3 separate regions of the Homo sapiens genome follow, and regions 2 and 3 are each linked to region 1. Evidence: fine-mapped expression QTL. A gene starts in region 1. Each other region holds a variant in brackets. All regions are shown on one strand. Distances are from middle to middle. Region 1 holds the start of EYA1 (EYA transcriptional coactivator and phosphatase 1). Region 2 overlaps EYA1 (EYA transcriptional coactivator and phosphatase 1). Region 3 holds the start of LOC102724772 (a long non-coding RNA gene).

What was found. PIP is the estimated chance that this variant, and not a neighbour inherited with it, causes the effect. A credible set is the group of variants that fine-mapping cannot tell apart.
Region 2: its variant is the best candidate, but not a certain one, in a credible set for the expression of EYA1 in prefrontal cortex (GTEx, PIP 0.55).
Region 3: its variant is the best candidate, but not a certain one, in a credible set for the expression of EYA1 in testis (GTEx, PIP 0.64).

The regions. Positions count from the first base shown.
Region 1 is chr8:71,361,003-71,363,764 of GRCh38, reverse strand. It overlaps EYA1 (EYA transcriptional coactivator and phosphatase 1), which reads left to right and starts at 1,696. Exons shown (of 18, transcript NM_000503.6): 1 at 1,696-2,118. RefSeq lists enhancers at 1,906-2,015, 1,768-2,289.
Region 2 is chr8:71,231,433-71,234,194 of GRCh38, reverse strand. All of the region lies in intron 12 of EYA1 (EYA transcriptional coactivator and phosphatase 1), which reads left to right. Among named protein-coding and RNA genes, the nearest start is that of EYA1, 130 kb to the left of the region's middle. The variant A/T (reference allele first, on the strand shown) is at 1,166.
Region 3 is chr8:71,547,200-71,549,961 of GRCh38, reverse strand. It overlaps LOC102724772 (a long non-coding RNA gene), which reads right to left and starts at 2,317. Exons shown (of 5, transcript XR_929035.3): 1 at 2,267-2,317; 2 at 1,054-1,150. It also overlaps a transcript of EYA1 not described here. The variant C/T (reference allele first, on the strand shown) is at 1,583.

The DNA of each region.
Region 1 (2,762 bases):
ATAAATGTGGTTGCAAAAGTATTTACTGTTTGATATCAGATTGAATTACCACAACATTACATTTTATCTGACAATGCTAGAAATCTCCATTACAAGCTGTATTTTATTTTCTGCATATATACTTTAGTATATTGAATAACTGATACTTCTGGTCTGAGAAAGTGCAGTAGGTGGTAACATAATTCTATTTCTGCTGCATATATGAACAGATCCAATAGCAATCAACTGTGTTTTGACCTGGCTTCCCAAATATGGTAGATGACTAGCCCATGATTCCTTGCTGGTACTATACAAAATGAAATCCTAGGTGAGTTTGCAGTTTAAACTGTCGTTTATGTTTGACAAAGTGTTCTTTTCTGAGGAATTCAGATTGGCATACTTTCGGTGGTTGGGGGGAAGTCTGTAATAAATTTTGGTCATTAGCAGCTTTTTATTTTTTGTTTGCATCGGAATGGTGCTTTCATTTACATATTAGCAATATAAAGTTATGATTGTGTCTATGTGTTTTATTAGTTGACGATCTGGAAATGTATTATAAAGTCATGCAAAAAGTTATTGTGATTTTTAAAATTTTTTTCACATCTATCAAGCGCCTAAAAAATGAGGACGCTTTTTTTTTCCTTAAATAAAAGACCTAATCAGCAGAATAGTATTCTATGGGTGATGACAAAACAGTTTTAAGAAAAATCCGATGGGCTTAAAGATTTTATTTTAGAGCACAAAATTGGTTACAACGAGTGACTAGTATCAAAATAAACATTTGTATTTGAATGTTGGCACAGGTCTGGCAAATTGAGATACAATCATTAGTCACATAAACGATGCCTTCTTTGAATATTTGAAATCAACATAATGGTTAAGTCTTATCACCAAAGTCATGTATCTGTATAAAACATATCTTAACTGAAGCTCAGCTCTTTAGGTGAGTGTTATAGACTGTCATGCATAGATTCCGAGGTCAGTAAGAATTTTTTTTTAAAAGAATAAGCTGTAAAGAAAGAGTTCTAGATAACATGAATCTTTTCCAAAAACCATTTAAAAATATTAACACTGAAACATTATCTGGTTCATAGCCAAGGAATTGTTCACAGAAGATTTGCCATTCTAGAAATCATTTCGGATTCATCCTTCAGGCTTTCATTATTAAACTGATAAAAGCTTGCACGTTTGCTTTTTCATTTTCTACTTAAAGGGAAATGGCCATTCTAGTTTTTTATTTCCCCCAGACCTGTTTCAGTAGTAGGTACGTTAGTTAGGAAATAAATTATGAAAAGTAGTGGATTCCCTAAGTTTCAGGGCCTGAAAAAAGTTTAGGAAAAGTGTAAAAGATAACGTGTAACTACTCCCCAAAGATCTTAATTGGTAACTACTGTTGCAAGAGGACGCGTGTGTGTTGACCACGTCTCAGAGAAGTTATTCTCACACAGCTGTTTATTCAGATAGCGTGGGGCGCGTTCATTTACATAATTTTTTTTTTTTTAAACAGCAAGGTTGAGTCAGACAGAGCAGTGCTCCTTTCAATTGTTGCATTTAAACCAATAAGGTTAGGACAAGAGAATAGCTGTGGTTTGCGTTGCAAAAACCAAAAAAAAAAAAAAAAAAAAAAAAAGAAAGCCCCGAGGCTCCATGGGCAGACCTACAAGGCTGCGCAAACAAATCGAGGGATGAGATTCTGCTGTTTCTTTGTCTAGGGTTCTCAGATGCTATCTGCCGCTGCTGTTTGGTGGGGAAGGAGCGCTGGGCGCAAAGCTGTTACCAAACAGAACGGTGGGAGCTGATGGCTCCGAGTTTGGGGCGAGGTAGAAACTCTCCAGTGCCACTTCCGACTTTAAGCCTTCCTGTTGCCGTCCACTGTGGCGGGTTTCTTCCTGGGGAACACGTTTTCGCTCAGTCGCTCGGCAGCCCGAGCCTGCGGCAGCGGCCAGGCGCCTGCCCCCTGCGCCGAGCTTTCCCCTGCAGAGGCGCTCCACTCCCAGAAGCGCCGCGGCTGCACCAGAGCGCCTGAGAGCCCCCGCGCGTACCCATCCAGGAGCAAAACTATGTCAGGAATGGAGGTTTGCTAACCCAGAAAATTCGAAGGAACACATTAAACTGGTGGATGCAGCAGATGTAAGCGCTGTAAGTACAAGCTGACTGTTTGAAAAATTGTAGTGACTGACAACAGCTGTCCTGTGGGCAAAGCCCAAGCTAACAGGAGCGCTTTTATTATTGTTTTGATTTGTTTTCAAAGAAAAACATTATGGCATGGGGAAAATTATGACACTTTGTACCTAGTACTTTATGAGCCACAGGGTTTCATCCTAGAAGTAGAATTCCCAACCTCCAAATTATGAGCGATCAGGATCATTAAGAAATAATTACAAATTAATTGTTAACAATTACTTTTGTTATGCTCTAGATAAATGTAATGCAGGACCATATTCTTGCAGGGAGATGACTTCATATCTCTTTTCTGAATTGCTGCACAAATCTCAAATATATTTGTGTGGTATTGAATAAAGCGGTACATATATGTTCATTGCAATACATAAGTAACTTTTACACACTTTGATATGAAAAAAATGAAGCATTTAACATTTGAAAGGACAACAGATAACAACATTAAATTGATAGCACTTTTTAAGGAAGAAAATATTTTTGCTTTAATAAATTTCCCAAACGTTATATTAAACAAACTTATCTTCAGAAGGTGATATAACAAACATTTACCCAATTAATATATTTTTCTCTTATTGACACTTTGTAAGGCTTGAGTGGACCTT
Region 2 (2,762 bases), 130 kb after region 1:
CAAGGAGAATGACTACAGGAAAGAAGTCCTTGGATAGCAAGACAGAATGAAATCCGGAGCACAGGTTACATGGTGGGTCTTAGATAAGAAGGCAGGTAGAGTCTGCAGGTACAGTGCAGTCCAGGAGTGGGGATTTGGTCATGATCAAAGGAGCTGGTTCTTGCTATAAAAATATTTACTGCACTTTATTAAGATTTTCTGCATACCTCGGTCTACCCCCCACTGGGAAATCCCTTGAGGCCAGGAATCAGGATTTGTCCACTTAAATCCTGAGCTCCTGACACAAGATTTGGTACATGGAAGGCTCTCATATGTTTTCTTTAATTACTTATTTTCAAATTTTTCTAATAGTAGTCAATGATGAGCATTACCTTTATTATTTAGAAAAGTTAACTTTTAAAAGTAAATGAAGATTAATCTCAATCTTAACAATTAAAACACCCAAGATATTAGACTTTCATATTACGTTAAGTCAGATTTTCAAAATCCTTAATGTCAAGACACAATATACATAGAAGAGGTATGTTATAAAATGATATGCAGCGTGGTTCCAGTTTGGGGATTAAAAAACAAAGGTATGTATATCAAAAGAAAACAAAGGCTTTCTTTTTTTTCTTTTTTTTTTTTTTTTGAGACGGAGTCTCACTCTGTCGCCCAGGATGGAGTGCAGTGGCACAATCTCGGCTCACTGCAAGCTCTGCCTCCCAGGTTCATGCCATTCTCCTGCCTCAGCCTCCTGAGTAGCTGGGAATACAGGCGCCCACCACCACGCCCAACTAATTTTTTGTGTTTTTAGTAGAGACGGGGTTTCACTGTGTTAGCCAGGATGGTCTCGATCTCCTGACCTCGTGATCTGCCCGCCTTGGCCTCCCAAAGTGCTGGGATTACAGGCATGAGCCACCGCACCCGGCAGAAAACAAAGGCTTTCTATATTTAAAATGATACAGAAATAATTTCAACAATAAACACTGATTTATCTCTAGATAGTAGGATAAGAGAAATTTTCTGTTTTTACTTTCTATATGTAATGTTTCTTATAATTAGGAAAATGCTGAATGTAATCATGGCTCTCTTATTCCAGCCTGACTCAAAGCCCAGTGTTGTTTATGTGGTTTGTTAGCTTGCAGTTCTAGAGACACCAGAGGTGGAACTGGTGAATTCATTC[A/T]TTCGTGAGGGCCCCCTTTATGCCTCAATTTCCCATCTGTAAAACTGGATGATGATATACCTCATCGGGTCAGTGTGAGAATTGCGTGAGTTAAAATCTGTTAAGTGCATACAACTAGCACTGGCTCGCAGGAAGCACTAAGGAAGTCTATGCTGCTGTTATTGTCCATTGAGTGTCTTCTACATGCAGAATGCTGGGTCAAGCCCTGTAAGGCTGTAGGGGACGAAGGGAAAGTGACTTAAGGAGGGACGAGGGAATGAAGGGCATGAGAAAATAAGTGGTTTGCTGCCAAATTCTCTTGTAGAATTCCAACAGAAATCACACCAGACACACCAAAAAAAAAAAAGAAAAGAAAAAAGAAAAAACATCTGTCAGTGGCAAATGCCCCTGCTCCAGGTAGATCACAGAATACTTCTTTGGGTCCATCCTTATTCATGGGCTCCTCCCACCCCCAGTTGCATGCCGGGAGGTGTGCTGTTGGCAGTTAAGTAGCTACTGTATCTGGTTCCCGTCACAGTGTGCTGTCCCTCATAGAAAATGAGGATGCTGGCTTCGTGTAAAAAGACACGTTTCCTTGGTTGTGCTGATAAATGTCCTTTTACTCGTTGTCTTCCTACCTCATGTTTTGAAGGATGGCTCATGGAACTTGCTGGTGGTGTCACGGCATGCAGCGGAGCCTGGCTGGGTGTGAAGTCACTGTGGAGCAGAGCCTCCCCTTCTCAGGCCGCTTGGACTGACAGTGCAGGCTGCTGGGCGTCCTTAGTGAAGTAGGAGGCAGGGGGCAGCAGTCCTTTGGGAAACTTTTCTCATGTCAGTACAAAAGCACTGACTCCATCAACACTGTGAATTCAATCTTATTATCTGCAGTTTACACATGTGGGAAATTGAAGGGAGGTGGTTGTTGCCCAAAGCCACTTGGTTAGGTGATGGTAAAGCTGAGGTTGAAACTCAGGTTTTCTTTTGCAAACATCATTGCACAAAACCTTTCTAGCCAAGTCAGAGAACCTGGCTATTCCTTTTTAGCAAAGGAAAGGAAGTCAATAACACCTTGCTGCTGTCACACAAGGATGCTATGGAGCGGGGCCTAATAACTGGATGGGGCTTTCTTGACTGTATTCTTTGAAAGCTTTCTTTCTCACTGTGTCTTACAAACCTGCAAGCCATAGTTGCCCAGGCAACTTAAAATCTATTTTGGAAATGTTGAGAGGTAGGTCAATAGATAGAGAGTGGACAGAAAGACATGTTGTTGTAATGAACAACGATAAAATAATATTGGAGCAGTCCCTACATCACAGACTAAAAAGAGCTACTTTGCGCTGAATGTCCTCATGCTCACTCTATTCTGGACACTAGCTAGGCACTGAGGATAAAATATGAAACACATTCTTTGCTGTCAAGGAGCCCAGATACTGGGTAGAGACAGAAAAGTGAAAGAATAATTCCATCACAGCAATGATGGAGATGTCTGTGGTCATTAGCTAGAGTCTGAGAGATGGGATGGCTATCCCAGATTGGGGAGAGGTGGCAAGGCAGAGTGTTGGAGCAGTGACTTCCCCAGGAAGAAACATTGAGCTTGAGAAAGCATGACATTTAGGAA
Region 3 (2,762 bases), 190 kb before region 1:
ATATTTTAAACATATGGCCTTTCTGAAAGAGTAGTGATGAAATAATTCTCCACACCTTCAAATTCAGAAACTCGTTCAACATTTAGATCGGTTTTTATCCAAGGCCATATGAAAGTGGGTTTCCCTAAAAAAATAAAATGGTCAGATATTTGGGTTGAGAACTGTTCTCTCAAACTTTAAGAATACTAGGATAAAGTATCAAAATAATTCTTCTATTAATACATAAAAATTTTAGGTGATATGTTACTTCTGAACTATATAAATTGATTTTTAAAATATGATTTTCAAATAGATAGTATGCCTGCCATCTTTGACATGAGAAACTTTCATTGCCTTTGGTAAGTTCTTAGCAAATACTTATATCTGGTAGCTTTGGGTTATTTTTTCTCCCCTCCTCCCTCAAATAAAATTTTTGATCACCTAATCTTTAAGTCTCTGGATTTGCTTTTTTATGTTATAGTAATTCTTTATGAATAGGTAGAAAGCATAGGTAGTAGTTTCCTTTTCAAAAAGGAAAAGCCATCCTCATCAACTGGGTAATTTAACTAACATTTCTATTTGGGCAAGGTATTGGGGTTTTATTGGGTTAACAGTTTATTGATGCATTGATTTCTACATGAAGTCTCCCTCACCCAACATACATGGTTTATTTTGGAAAGTTTCTGTGTCTGAAAACATAAAAATATCCAACAGTTAAGGACCAAAAAAAAATCAGTCTTTGTGTAGATTTCTGATTATTTCCTGTGTGTTGGTCTTATCACAGAATCTATAATCTGTGGCCTTTGAAGGTGAAGGATTAGATCTCATTGTTCTGACTCTTCATGGCATCTAGCACAAGTCAACAAATACTCAATGACTGACAGAAACAATAGTAAAGTGTGTGAATCTAGACAATTTTGAAAGAGTATGTACAATAATACCTGCATTCATGCTATGCTTTCTACTTTCTAAGGCCCTTTTGCTTACATGATCTCATTGGATGTGAACAATTGAGTGGGGGATGGGGAAGGGATTTCATCTGAGGGAGAGAAGAGCCAACATTCTGATGCTCACTGAGAAGTGATGAGTCCTTATAAGAGCAAATCATCAAGGTATTTGCATATCTTTCACTGCTCCTGATTGGATTCCCCAGTCAAGTAAGAGGAAGATCCTGGAGAAGGAACATCTCAGATTACTGGCTTGTAATGGATGCTTCATCCAATGCTGAAATACTTTGCAGGTCGAATCAAGGTTCTCTAGCTCCCCTTAAGTTACAGAGACAAGGGAATTTTGGGGTTACAGAAACTTCCCCCTACCAGCTCAAAGCGTCCCTTGGTGCAAAGAAAGGCAAAAAGTTTAGAAGAAAGGACAATGGGTTAGGCCTGGGCATTTAGTCAAGGCTCCCCTGCCCGACTTTGGGGTAATCCATTTACCATTCTTGGCCTCAGTTACGCTATCTGTAAGAAGTTAGAATACATACCTTTAAGATCACTTCTAAAGGTATTTGAATCCCAGATGTTTTAATAAGTTTCAGGCTGACTGAATATTCCTTTACATCCAACCTACAGCCCCTCGCCCCAAATCACCAAATCACTCCACCCAT[C/T]CTCCCCTTCAGGACCTCCCCATGCACACCTAGCTTCCTCGCGGTGACAGAACTAACCCACCACCCCCTCCTTCTGTTTCTGAGGCCTCTCCGTAGAAAACGCTGCAGGGGCCAGGCGTCCGAGACACCCCGCGGGGCAGTGGGCACCAGGCCCAGGCTCCGGCTGCAGAGCGGAGGGGCGTCGGGCCCAGGAAAGGGGCTGTGGGTGGGGGTACGGGGGAGACCCGAGGGGTGCTGGGAAGAGGGCTCCCCTCTCCAGCGCCAGCCCTGGTGTCGCTGTGCACTCGGAGCCGCGCGAAGGGCGCCCCTCGACCCGGAGGCACAGGAGCGTTTAGAGAGGAAAGAAAGAAAAAGCCACCGCTGGCTCGAATTTCTGGAAGCCGGAGCCGGGTTTTTTGCCCTAAACACCGAGGCAGAACCCCTCTTAGCGCTGCCCCGGCCTCTCTGTTACCCATTTTCGGTTTGCTTTTGGAAGAACCGGTTCCTCAGCCCCCCGTCGCCGCAGTTGTGACACAAGTAAGTGCAGCCGCGCTGCCCGGGGCCCGCCAGGGTCCCCCGCGCCCGCTCCCCACCGTGGCTCGCGGCGGCCGCGCTCCCGCCCCGCCCCGCTCGGCCGCCCCGCCGGCTTCTGCCTCCAGTTGGGTTGCCGTGACGAGGAGACGTTGTTGTGAAACTAAATCTGACCCTGAGTTCCCAGGCGGCGGCCGAGAGCCCGCGGCTGCTGATGCCCCTGGGCCCCACCCCGGGGCAGGAGGGCGGCGATCGGCGCCCGGGAAGCGGCTGAGGGGCGCCGCGACTCTCAGCGAGCGCCGCCCGAGCCCCAGCCCGCCCGGGCAGCCTCCGAGGCCTAGGGCGCCGCCGCCAGGTACGCGAAAGTCACCTGGAAGGGAGCTGGGTGCGCGCAATAATGGGGCCTTGAGCCGTGGCCGGCAGGGGAGAGGTGCAGCCGCCCAAGGCCCGTGGCGTCGGGCGCTGCACGTGGAGGGATGTGTCAAGGGCCGGTTTGTTTTCCTTCGGGGAGGTGGTAACTGATTGGGACGTCGGGGGACGGAGGGGAGGGTCCTCTTGGCCTGATATGATGTTGTGATTGCCATCTTAGACATGTGCGTGAGCTCGAAGCTCCAGTAATGGGAAACATCTGGAGGGCAGCCCAGGCAGGCAGATACTTAGTTTTAGCGCT